Linked DNA regions of Homo sapiens: region 1 is linked to region 2. Evidence: fine-mapped expression QTL. A gene starts in region 2. The other region holds a variant in brackets. All regions are shown on one strand. Distances are from middle to middle. Region 1 has its middle 160 kb from the start of PDE8A. Region 2 holds the start of PDE8A (phosphodiesterase 8A).

What was found.
Region 1: its variant is fine-mapped to the expression of PDE8A in whole blood (TOPMed, PIP 0.99).

What each region holds. Positions count from the first base shown.
Region 1 is chr15:85,143,098-85,146,109 of GRCh38, reverse strand. No RefSeq gene overlaps it. Among named protein-coding and RNA genes, the nearest start is that of PDE8A, 160 kb to the right of the region's middle. The variant AT/T (reference allele first, on the strand shown) is at 1,515.
Region 2 is chr15:84,980,494-84,982,993 of GRCh38, reverse strand. PDE8A (phosphodiesterase 8A) reads right to left here and starts at 1,138. Exons shown (of 22, transcript NM_002605.3): 1 at 646-1,138. The coding sequence starts at 831. RefSeq lists an enhancer at 957-1,489 and silencers at 1,217-1,706, 2,027-2,076.

The DNA of each region.
Region 1 (3,012 bases), 160 kb before region 2:
TCCCAGTGTAATAGTGGATTAATCTTTTCTCCTTACAGTTCTATCAGTTTGGGGCTCATGTAGTTTGATATTATGTTGTTTGGTGTATACATGTTAGGGATTATTATGTCTTGGAGAAATGATCTCTTTATCATAATCTAATGACCTTCTTTATCCTTGATAACTTTCCTTGCTTTTAAGTCTCCTCTGTTTGCAATTAATGTAACTACTCCTTTCTTTTTTTTTTTTTGAGACAGAGTCTCGCTCTGTCATGAGGCTAGAGTGCTGTGGCGCGTTCTTGGCTCACTGCAACCTCTGCCTCCCAGGTTCAAGCGATTCTCCTGCCTTAGTCCCCCTGAGTAGCTGGGACTACAGGTGTGCAACACCACGCCCAGCTAATTTTTGTATTTTTAGTAGAGACAGGGTTTCACCATGTTGTCTAGGATGGTCTTGCTTTCTTTTGATTAGTGTTAGTGTGGTATATTTTCTCCATCCATTTAATCTATGTGTTTTTCATTTTTTGGGTTTTTTTTTTTTTTTTTTTTTTTTTGAGACAGAGTTTCGCTCTTGTTGCCCAGGCTGGAGTGCAATGGCATAATCTTGGTTCAACAACCTCTGCCTCCTGGGTTCAAGCGATTCTCCTGCCTCAGCCTCTCGAGTAGCTGGGATTACAGGCATGTGTCACCACACCCTGCTAATTTTGTACTTTTAGTAGAGACAGAGTTTTTCCATGTTGGTCAGGCTGGTCTCGAACTCCTGACCTCAGGTGATCCACCTGCCTCTACCTCCCAAAGTGATAGGATTACAGACCTGAGCCACCGTGCCCGGCCTGGCTTTTTTTTAAAAATGGGTGTGGCTCTCACTATGTTGCCCAGGCTGGTCTCAAACTCCTGGCCTCAAGTGATCCTCCCACCTTGGCCTCCCAAAGCCCTGGGACTACAGGCATGAGCCACCACATTTGGCCTCAAATATTTCTTCTGTTCTTTTCTTTCTGTATTTTCCCTCTGCTATTCTTATAACATGTATATTACAACTTTTTAGCTCCATAGTCCTTGGATATTTTGCTCAGTCCTATTCTCTTTAATTTTCAGTTTTGTAGGTTTCTATTTGACATGTCTTCAAGCTGAGAGATTCACTCCTAATTCATGTCCAGCCTATTAATGAGCCCATCAAAAGCACTTTTCATTCATTCGCAGTGTTTTTGCTATAAACAAAACAGTGCTTTCCTCCTCTCTTTGCTGGAAGTATGAGGGAATTTTCCTGTTATATTTACTGTGAGAACTGTGAAGCTCTTGGAGGTAAAATTCACGAAAGTGCAGGCGGGGGGCACCCCTTATAACTGGGTTCCCCAGGAGTTTTAATTCTTAGACTGTCCACATTGAGCCTCCACCAATTCTTCAATTACTGACAGGTTCTTCTACCCTGGCACTGGTTCCCATGGTGGTTTCCACTCATGAATCTCTGCTCCAGTAAGATATAATTTCCTGTATTTGCCTGCTGGTCTCTCCTATCTTAGGGGCAGCAGTTTGACTTGT[AT/T]CCTCACCTTTCTTACAGATCTAGGAAGAGCTGTTGATTTTTCAGGCTGTTTAGCTTTTTACTTGTTAGAATGAAGTGGCGACTTTCAAGTTCCTTACATGCGGATCTGGAAAATAAGTCTCCTCATTCTTTTTTACAGTTGCATAGTATTCTGTTGTATGGTCATACCTGTAACTTGTTTACTTACTCTTCTTAAATGATAGACAATTTGTTTCCAGTCTTTTACTAATATAAGTAGTAAATAATAAATAATTTTGTAGACTATTATTTCCCACGTGTAAATATCTTTAGGCTAAAATCCTGGAAGTAGAATTGCCAGGTCACACTGCATGTACATTTGCAATTTGGATAGATTTGGCAAATTTGTAATTAGGTTGTACTAATTATACTCACCTGCCATGTCATTTCCACTCATTCTTCTTTTTTTTACCACCCACCCCCGCCCCCTCCCCGAGAGAGTCTTGCTCTGTCACCCAGGCTGGAGTGCAGTGGCGCCATCTCGGCTCACTGCAACCTCTGCCCCCTGGGTTTAAGCAATTCTTCTGCCTCAGTCTCTGGAGTAGCTGTGATTATAGGTGCCCGCCACCACGCCTGGCTAATTTTTATATTTTTAGTAGAGACAGGGTTTCACTATGTTGGACAGGCTGGTCTCAAACTCCTGACCTTATGATCTGCCTGCCTTGGCCTCCTAAAGTGCTGGGATTACAGGCGTGAGCCACTGCAACCGGCCCACACATTCTTATTAACATACTATATTATCAAACTTTTTATTCTTTACTCATCTTAAAGGTGAAAAATATCTCAAATTGGTTCTAATTTGCATTTGATTACTATCAGTGTAGTATAAACTTTAAGAACCTTTTGTTTTTCTACAAACTTTCTGTTCATAACATTTTTAAATTTTTTCTACCGTACTGTTCATTTTCTCATATAAAAATTTTAAAAATCAGTATTATGGAAGTAAGCTTTTATAAAATGAATTATAAACATTTCCTTGCTTTTGACATATTGTCATTTGTCACATAAAATATTTTGATTTTTATTGTTGATTTTTTAATTGTGTTTTCATATGGCTTCTGTTTTGTGTACTACTTTCTCTGCTTAAAATATGTGCCTATAGTCCCAGCTACTCAAGGAGGCTGAGGTGGGAGAACTGTTTGAGCCTGGGAGGTAGAGGCTGCAGTGAGCCTGATTGCGCCACTGCACTCCAGCCTGGGCAACAGAGACCTGTCTCAAAAGAAGAAAAAATATCCTAGCTGCCTTGGCCCTAGCTGCCTTTAAAAAATCAATGTACTTCACCACTAGACTTAATAAATATTAACATTTTTCTGTGTCTACCTTTTTTTTTTTTTTTTTTTTTTTTGAGATGGAGTCTTGCTCTGTCACCAGGCTGGAGTGCAGTGGTACGATCTCAGCTCACTGCAACCTCTGCCTCCCGGGTTCAAGCGATTCTCCCACCTCGGTCTCCCAAGTAAGTGGGATCACAGGCGCCCGCCA
Region 2 (2,500 bases):
TTGTTCTGCTGAATGCTTCAAAAATCGCGTTTCACAGTATTTTCTAATTACATATGCTTTAAATACAGTATGTATGCTAATAAACGTGGACCTCAAATACATGTGCAATGAAGCAAAGCTGATGTTCCAGATTACATTCTAGCAGTCCCGAAGAAAATGGTAACCTGCAACTGCATGTGCAAAGCTGACAGAGGGAAAAGAGTGGTGAGGCCAGTCGCCCTTCCCTTTCTACCACAGGAAAAGAACAAAGTTCACACTGATTTAACATTGCAGGGGCGCGCCAGAATATCCTGGGGGTTTCCCTCAAACACCCGCTCTTGGAGAGGAAATTGATGCAAGCGCCTCAGTCAACTTCACATCGGGCCCCGCCGCTCCGGGAGTCGGATGTGTCCAAAAAACCGACGCCGCGACACAGGCGGCGTCCTAATCGCAACCCTAGGAAATCAGGGTCGCGGGACCTGGGTCGGTCCTTCTCTGAACGCTGCCCCGGCAAGGCGGGAGACTGGCGTCAATCAGAACCATCCAAAGCGGGACAAGAGGGCACCGAGGCCGGGTGGGGGGGACCCCGCCCGGCCCCTGCGGGAAAGTTGCTTACTGGCCGGGCCCGAGTTTCGCGGCGGCCCCAGAGTGCCCGGCGCCCCTTACCTTCTTGCCGCTGCCGTCGCGAAGCTCCGACTCCAAGAGGCCGGCGCCGCGGGTCCGGGGCAAGGCGGCCGTCTTCTGGCCCTGCGGGAGGCGCGGCCCGCCGGACGACAGCGGCGGTGCCGCGGGGCTAGGCGCGTCCTCGGCCACCAGGCGCTCGGAAATGTGGATGCTCGGGGCACAGCCCATGCTGGCGGCGGCGCCGCGGACACGCTGGCGGGTAGCCGCGATCCGGTCAGCAAACGGCCCACCCGGCGCCTCCGGGCCGCCGCGGGCGCCGTGTCATCGCCGCCTGGGCGGGCGGCGGCGAGCGCGGATCTCGCGTCAGGAAACGCGGCCGCCCCTTTTATCGCGGTGCGGGCGCTGCGGCGGCGGCGGCTGCGGTGGGAAGGGGGCGCTTAGGCGGGTGGCGTGCCGAGGCCGCCCCTCCGAACATGCCCTTCCTGAGGCAGGAGCCGACGGCCGCCTCTCACATCGCCGGGCTCGCCTCGGCCGCGCTTCCGGGGAAATAGGGGGAGGAGATTTGCGCTCTCCTTACCCAGGAGCGGCTGAGTCCACGCCGCGCGAGCCACGCTGCCCTCGCCGAGCTGCGGCACGACCCCCGGGGGAGGCGAGCTCCCGGCCGCGCCCGGCCCCGCTCCCGCCGCCGCCGCCGCCGCCTCCCCGGCTCCAGACTCCGCCTAGATGTGGACACCCACGCCGCTCCGCCCGCTGGGCCGCCGCCTCGCGGAAAAGCCCCCCCAGGCCGAGTGCCGGTGGGGTACAAGGCTAGCCTTAGACGCTCCCGCTGGCCGGGGTTTAGGCGCGGGGTCCGAGGGAAACCCCTCGGAGCGGCCGGGCCACGTCCGCCAGGGTAGGGAGGGGAGCAGCTCGGCTCCAGCGGGGCCTGGGGCCGCACCGTCGAGAAGCGCAGAAACGGCTGCGCGCACCCAGGAGTTGCTGGCGGTACGGCTCCGGCTCCGGCTCCGTGATCCGGGCCGGGTTTTGCCGGCAGCGTGCCGCGCCGAGCCCCCAGCGGTGACCTCCAGCGGGTGCTGGCGTCAATGCAAAGCAGCTGGGGCGCCCGCCACCTCCTCCGGACGCCGCCCGCAACTGAGCATGCGCGGCGACGACAGGCGGGGCGCCCGACTGGGCTACCCAGAGAAGGAAAGAGACTTGCCCAGGGACACACAGCCACCTCCGTCCCGAGGCCACCAGAAGCCCGACCGCCAAATTCGAATTCCGGCTCCGTAACTTAGCGGCTACTTGACCTCGGTGGGGTCACCAAGTGTGAGCCCTGGAGCTGTTACCCAGAAAAGAGGCCGGTGGAAAGACCTCCTTTGGGGGTAGTGAAAGTCAAACTGGGGCGCCGCGCGCCGGGTCCCGGGTGGGTGGGGCCTGGGCGTCCGCGAGAAGCCGCAGCCCACGTGCGCTCCCTCGCAGGCCAAAACCTGGCGCGCCACGCCTCGGATTACACAGGCGCCGGGGCGGCCGCAAAGCTACAGCACCGGGCAGGCTGCAGGCGCCCGTCCTCCTCTCATTTTAACCAAAGTGCTAGTCGGGCGTCCGAGACCCCAAAGGCAGAGCCAGGGGAAGGGGCGTACGCATTGCAGGCCTGGGGCCCATGAGGACCCCGGACACGCACACAGCCACTAGCTTGCTGTGTGAACTGGGCCAGTCACTTAACTTCTTGGTGGCTGGGGCTCCTCCCCCACCAGCTGGAGGGCGGTGTCTCTGGGCGTCCATCACGTATCCTGTAGCGGGCTGCCTCGGACCCCCGCCAGTCTTCCCGCCCTCCCTGGGCTCCCGGTTTGCGGAGACCCTGGCGCGGTGCAGCCGGCTCCTTCCTGTCCTCTCCGACCGTCCACACCTTTCCTAG